Homo sapiens: one gene and its partner. The gene in region 1 interacts genetically with each later gene. Each region holds a gene or a part of one and is shown on either strand. Other genes may lie near its edges.

Evidence for each region. Genes that interact genetically often act in the same process or in processes that back each other up.
Region 2: changes in RRM2 (region 1) and ARID2 together harm fitness more than expected from each alone (negative genetic interaction), as found in Homo sapiens cells (one large-scale study listed by BioGRID).

Annotation. Positions count from the first base shown.
Region 1 is NC_000002.12:10,125,473-10,129,200, reverse strand, and holds part of RRM2 (ribonucleoside-diphosphate reductase subunit M2), read right to left. Parts: intron 2,327-3,728; coding exon 2,232-2,326; intron 2,115-2,231; coding exon 1,981-2,114; intron 354-1,980; coding exon 249-353; intron 161-248; coding exon 47-160; intron 1-46. UniProt on the Homo sapiens protein: Provides the precursors necessary for DNA synthesis. Catalyzes the biosynthesis of deoxyribonucleotides from the corresponding ribonucleotides. Inhibits Wnt signaling.
Region 2 is NC_000012.12:45,851,386-45,855,205, reverse strand, and holds part of ARID2 (AT-rich interactive domain-containing protein 2), read right to left. Parts: coding exon 2,310-3,820; intron 1,027-2,309; coding exon of another isoform or gene 969-1,026; intron 1-968. UniProt on the Homo sapiens protein: Involved in transcriptional activation and repression of select genes by chromatin remodeling (alteration of DNA-nucleosome topology). Required for the stability of the SWI/SNF chromatin remodeling complex SWI/SNF-B (PBAF).

The DNA.
Region 1 (3,728 bases):
GCACCAGCTTCAAAACAAGCAAAAGGCTATGTAAACAATACTTTACCTTGCTAAAACCCAGTTCCAGCATAAGTCTGTCTGCCACAAACTCAATGTATTGCTTCATTAGAGTGCAATTCATCCCAATGAGCTTCACAGGCAAGGCCTCAGTGAGGAACTCCTAGGAACCAAAATACAGCTTCTGAATACAACTAAAGCACAGGCATTTTCTAGCAAGCTTGAGTGACCCATTTCATCACCCACTTTACCTGTTCTATCCGAACAGCATTGATAATTATTTCTCTTACTCTCTCCTCCGATGGTTTGTGTACCAGGTGTTTGAACATCAGGCAAGCAAAATCACAGTGTAAACCCTAGAAAAAAAAGTTCAAGATCACTAAAGCCAGAAGACTTCTGTCATTAACATGGAATATGAAATTACTTTGTCCTTTTCTGCATTCTCCTTATCCAACATGCTCAGCCATACTGAGAGCACTTGAACTCTCAAAGGGAAGATGACTTCAACTACTGACTTCTCTGCTGATGTCACTACCAAGGCAAGCTCAGTCCCATTCAAGACCCTCAAAGTTGCCACCTAGATGAAGACAGGCAAGGTGTATTTCTTGCTCTGCTGTGTGTTGGCAAAGGAGGAGTCAGAGCTTCACTCAGTGATCTTTCTACAGCCATGAGTGCTAATTTTGCCACTACTCCCAGCAGGAAAGGCAAAGCTCAGTAATAAGGCTAGTTTTTAGATGCTCAGGAAATTTGTATGCAATTTCAAGTAAATCAAGTTTGCAAGTTACTGCATTAAACATCAAGCTTCACAGCTTATCTCCCAATCCAGTAAGGAAGGCCCTCCTACAAGGTAACCATATTTGATTTGCCCACTGGGCTCCAAGTAAGATGGAGTTCATGCTCCTGGCTTTTCAAATGTGACTTAATCAAAGACATACACTAGACCAAAATGTATACTCATTTCATTGAAATGCTTATTAATATTGAAGTAGAGGGGCAATTTCTAGATCAAACAGGAGAAACATAATGGCTACTATGAACATTCTTTTTCGGGGGGACTGTCACCCAGGCTGGAGTGCAGTGGTGTGATCTTGACTCACTGCAACCTCCACCTCCCAGGTTCAGGCGATTCTCCTACCTCAGCCTCTCAAGTAGCTGGGACAATAGGCACGTCCACCATACCCGGCTAATTTTTTGTATTTTTAGTAGAGATGGGGTTTCACCGTGTTAGCCAGGATGGTCTCAATCTCCTGACCTCATGATCCACCCGCCTCGGCCTACCAAAGTGCTGGGATTACAGGCATGAGCCACCGCTCCTGGCTCTACTATGAACATTTTTACGGAAAAAGGGATAACATATTAATACCAGGCAAAAATAATAAAACATCCCTTAAAATCCCAATCCCATCAATAACTTGTAGTTTTGGCTGGGCATGGTGGCTCATGCCTATAATCCCAGCACTCTGGGAGGCCGAGGCGGGTGGATCACCTGATCACCTGAGGTCAGGAGTTCAACCCCAGTCTGGCAAACATGGTGAAACCCCGTCTGTATAAAAAGACGAAAATTAGCTGGGCATGGTGGCAGGCACCTACAATCCCAGCTACTTGGGAGGCTGAGGCGGGAGAATCACTTGAACCTAGGAGGCAGAGGTTGCAGTGAGCCAAGATCACGCCATTGCACTCCAGCCTGGAACGACAGAGCAAGATTCCGTCACCTCAAAAAACAAAGAACTTGTAGTTTTATGCATTCAAAGCCTATAGGGGAATACATATGTACAAATGTATTACAATATATTGAGAATGCAAGTAAAACAGTTTCAGTAAATGAAAGTATTTCCTTCTTTTGTCAAGTATGTGTATGGTTGAACTCACACATTAAATGTGGATATATGCCATCTAGCATCTCAGGTCCCCGTCAGTGAACACAAGAGCATGCCCGAGTTGTGTTTGGGGTTTAGGTCACCCTATTATTTGACTTAGACTCACCTCATCTCTGCTAATAAGTTCATTAGAAAATGTGAGGCCAGGCATCAGTCCTCGTTTCTTGAGCCAGAATATCGACGCAAAAGAACCGGAAAAGAAAATGCCTTCCACTGCAGCAAAGGCTACAACACGTTCACCTATTTAGGAGTTAACACCAACATGATTCTAGTGAGTTGGTATTCAAGGGCCAAAAATCCAGTAACATTACTTGGAAAATGAAGCTCAGGTTTAAGTAGGGGCAAGGGTCTCCTTACCATAGGTAGCCTCTTTGTCCCCAATCCAGCGCAAGGCCCAGTCTGCCTTCTTCTTGACACAAGGCATCGTTTCAATGGCATTGAAGAGAAATTCCCTAGTAGGCACATACGGTATCAGCAATTGAAGCATTACAGTAAAAGACCTCCGATTACCAACTGCTAGATAAGAGCTCTGGGACAAAGGCCAAATTCAAGTATTTGCCAATCCTCTTCCTAAAGGAAGAACTCACACCGAAATGTTTTATTTTTACTGGTCAGTTTTTCCCTCCAGTGTTCTTTTAAAAACCTCAACACTTGATTTACATTAATACAAGTTTGGGTATTCTGTAGTTCATATTGAGCTTCAGGGTCTACAGACAGTAAAACATAGTCCAGTACAGCAGGGACATTTGTTGCCTTTAAAATTATTTCAAGTCCAGATCATTGTTCAATTTGAAGAATCATAGAATTTAAATTTGAAGAACCATAAAATCCTAACTGCTGTGCTATTATCAGACTATGATTAGGTGCATTATTTGGCCTCAGTTGCCACACCTATATCATAAAATAATTAAACCAATAAACTAAGATTGCTTCCTACTAGGACTCTGTGCTACACTGTCGATCCCAGGTCAGGAAAGCAAATCCATGGGTACTACAGTTAACTGGATCTCCCTTACCACCCTCCTCTGCCTCCCTTTATTCTGGTGCCCACCTTGAGAGGCTACTCATTTCCCAGACTGTTCCTACCCAGATGACTTTGTGTTCTGAAGCCAAGGGCACCAGACATTGGGCAGCTTTTTTTTTTTTTTTTTTTTTTTTTTTTTTAAAGAGATGAGGGTCTCACTCTGTTGCCCAGGCTAGAGTGCAGCGAGATGATCACAGCTCACGGTAAAACCAAACTCCAGGGCTCAAGCCATCCTTCTGCCTCAGCCTGCCAAGTAGCTGGGACTACTAGCTCAGACTACCATGCCCAGCTGTCGTTCATTCTTTCCATCTCACTGTCCCTCTCTCTGAGACCTGGGTCTGCCTCTCCCTTGTTTTTGAGGCTTCCCCAGCAGACCTTCCTGTTCCCCTTCTGGGCATTTGCCCCCGATCGTACCCCTAATCTTTGCCTTCTTTTCTCAATTTCCACCTATAAACATGTTCAAATCTCTTTACTCCCAATGTTTCCTCAGTCCTTTCAAGTTACCACTTTTCCTCTTCATGTACTTCAAAGTCTACAACGGCTACTTTAGGTTGCAGCTTCACCACTTCCACTCCATACAAGGTTCTGGTCCCCAAAGCTGACCTTTGTTTTTTTTGCTTGGTTTTGCTTTTTGAGACGGAGTCTTGCTCTGTCACCCAGGCTGGAGCGCAAGCTCCGCCTCCCGGGTTCACGCCATTCTCCTGTCTCAGCCTCCCAAGCAGCTGGGACTACAGGCGCCCGCCACCACTTTTTTTATTTTTAGTAGAGACGGGGTTTCACCGTGTTAGCCAGGATGGTCTCGATCTCCTGACCTCATTGTCCGCCCGCTT
Region 2 (3,820 bases), on another chromosome or scaffold:
TCCTAAAATTATCATTTAGTAGAACATCTCATAACACCACAGCTCAAATAACCAATGAGTTTTAGCAATAATGTCCTAAAATGATCATTTAATAGAACATCCTCTAACACAACAGCTCAAATAATCAATATGTTAGATTAAAAAAAGGCTCTCTAGAGCTTTATAGAGAAATCTTCTAGAACAGTGGAAAGAAGAAAGGTTAATGGGTTAAGAGCATGAGTTTTGGTTTCAGACAAACCCAGGTTTCTGTCCTGGTACCACCTCATATTAGTTGGTAACCTTGGGCAAGTTACTAGCCATCTTGAGTCCTCATCTTTATAATAAATTTTACCTAATAAGGTTGTGTGAGGATTAAATGAGAAACTGCTTTAGTATAAAGTCCCTATGACATGTCCTCGTCTTAGCTAGTATTATTGTTCATTCTTTGTAATTGTGATATTACTGACTACAACCACATTGGAAGATTAAGGGTACAAAAAATGAGTGTTGGTGAAACAATTCCATAATGATGGAGATGGAGTTTTTCTCTAATTTGGCTTGGTCTGTTATAACTATTTAGGATTGTAAAGGTCTCTAAGAGGAGTAACAGGCACATAATCAAGGTGAAGTGGGAAATTATTAAATATAAGAGAAAAAACCTAACTATGGAATATCTACTATATACTCCACATTGCACTAATTAAAAAATTGTGTTTAAGTGGAAAGCTCAACATGTGGAAGCTTGAATAAAAATGATACAGTATTTTCCATCAATAACTCAGGATTAATTATTGCCATGTATATAACATCCCTCAAAGCAGAAGTCTCCAATCTTTTTGGCACCAGGGACCGGTTTCATGGAGGACAATTTTTCCACAGACCAGGGAGTGAGGAGATGGTTTTGGGGTGATACAAGCGCATTACATTTATTAAGCACTTTATTTCTATTATTACACTGTAATATATAATGAAATAATTATACAACTTGCCATAATGTAGAATCATTGGGGGCTCTGAGCTTGTTTTCCTGCAACTTGACAGTCCCATCTGGGGAATGGGAGACAGTGACCGATCATCAGGCGTTAGATTCTCCTAAGGAGCGTGCAACCTAGATCCTTCGCATGCACAGTTCACGATAGGGCTTGTGGTCCTACGAGAATCTAATGCTGCCACTGATCTGACAGGAGACAGAGCTCAGGATATAACGTGAGTGATGGGAAGCGGCTGTAAGTAAATACAGATGAAGCTTCACTCGCTCACCTGCCGCTCACCTCCGGCTGTGTGGCCCAGTTCCTAAAGGGCCACGGACTGGTACCTGTCAGTTATTCTACTAGTTCTGAAGCAAGGGGCTCTTCCCTTTGTTCTTGTACTTTCCATTTGGCTATTGCCCACACCTAGATTTGGCACTAATGCCAACAATAGCCATATATCTGCTGTCATCACCGTAACCATACAGAAGCCCAAGCCAGAACTGTGTCAGCAGAGTTGGCAGTAGTCATAGAAGGTTCTGGCTATGTAGGAATTAGGAAGAACAGAGTGAAAGAAAAGTGATCCAGGAAACAGGTGGTGACGACTGTTAAGAGAATCCATGATTTCAGTGGAAAGAGCATATAAGATTGTCCTTAAAATCCTCATAGCCTGATTGGACCCTCAACTTGGTAGTGCTGATTTTAGAAAATACTTGTTTTTACTAAGGCATGCAGAGATGGAATCTTAGGCATTAAAAAGGGAATAGCAGGAATAGGACAGTAAAGCAAAGGAGTAAGAAACAGAAAAGAATATCAGAATATCTGAAACAAATTGAAATTACAATAAATAATACTTTTTAACACTAAAGGAGACTAATGCAATACATAAATACAAAAAGAATACGACTGATAAAGTTATTACAAGATTCATCCTTATTACAACAGTACTGTTAAAGAGGCAACAAAAACACACTCAGGTCAAAATCAAATACAGAAATCCCCATTTAGAGTACTCTTAGGACCCCCATTCCCCCCAACACTTGTGCAGTAAACTCAAAAAGGAGATTAAGATACATTTTTTAAATTCTCCAAAAGATGTCAGATTAGCAACTGCTTCTCTACCTTGGGCCTAGAAAATTATTAATTTGGATCTATAACAAAATTGAAAGATTCTTTAAATCATGTGCTAAAATTGAAAACTAATATTACAAAACCAGAGAAAAAGAAAAGGACAGGTTGGATACAAGTGAGCTGATACAGTAACTTTTCAAGATGAGACATGGAAAACAGTGCATTTCCCTCTAAAATTGTATTTACAGATCAGAAATTTCATAAGAGAAATGTGATCATGGAATAACTTACCTGCGGGACCACATTCTGTACATATGTTGGTGGATGCTGTTGCTTTTGCTGAACAGCACTTTCTATTGCTACTTTAGCTACAGTGCTTGGATCTGCTCCTGCTGGCACAGCAACCATTGTTGCGCTGCAGCCAGCATTGTTGGGGTCACTGATTGTAACAATTCTAACTCCTACTTTATTTGGAATTCCTGCGACTGTTTCCCTATCAGTATCCTCTGCTGGCCTCTTTACAGTTTTGCATTCTGCTGTGCCATTTGTAGACCGAACGTCAGATGATAGGGCAGGAGAATGGGATACTTTTGATCCTGAGTCGGGAACTGCTATGATTTGATGTCCCTGTATAACAGAGGTTGTAGAATGTGGTGAGACAACTACACTTGGGCGTTGCTGAGGCACATCTGAATTCAAACTTGAAGCTAGAGGTCCATTAAGCAAATCAGTACCACTAAATTGCTGTGTTGCCGCATTTGAAGCCTCCTGTATACTGCTCACAGATGAACCACCCAAAGTTAATACAGGTCCATTAGAAATTCTTTCTAGTTGATCACCTTTGGCAGTATCTTGCTGAGTGATATCTAAAGTCCCTTGTGGTTCCATTGGAGATATCTCACCATTTCCTACATGATTGGAAGTTTTATGATTTGGAATGTTTTTGCTTAAATGAGAACCATCTCCTTTATCAAAATCACAGATTCCATTAACTAGCGGTTTTCTCAAATCACTTTTGATATCTTGCATGTCTATTTGTTCTGAGTTCTGTTTCCCAGATGCTCCATTCTCACCTAATTCCAATGATGGCCCATTACTGATTAGTGAGCACTGATTAGTCTCACTTTGAATTTTCCCTGAGTTTGAAGGAGGTAGACTTGAGTCACTGTACTTTCTCCCATTTAAAAGACTTCCCACATGCATTTCATTTTCCTTTGTATCCCCATTGCTGGTGTTTGTGGCTCCTCGTCGGCAGGACGGGTTCTCCATGACTTCAATTTTACGTTCATGAACATGTAAACCTGTTGCTTCCTTTGCTTCCTCCTCCTTTTGGCAAATTATTTTATCACCTTTGAATGGGGGAGTAGCAGTAGTACATGATGATTGTCCAGCAGGAGATGCTTGAGTGGCTGGAAGCGTTTGTACTGGAAGTCCAACTCCTGTCTGCGTTCCGCTCATGGTAATTCCTGCTGGAGCAATGAGCTGAGTTGCATTTCCCTGACTCACAGTTGCAGGTGCAAAACTCGTATTTGGCACAACTGTTATGGTTACCTGGTTGCCAGAAGTCCCTTGGAAAATGGTTGCTGGGCTATTTGAGATCAGTGGACCTGGCAATATTTGTAAGTTCGAAATGGGCACAGTTTGTACTCCCCCTGAGGGTGGCATTGCACTTGGGACCAACTGAACATTTTGCTGCCCAACCAATAGCTGCTGAGCTGGAGTTTGCCCCTGCACTCCAAAACCTGCGGCTTGGTTACTGGCCACCTGATAGACCACCTGAGGGCTAGGAGCTCTTGCATTAT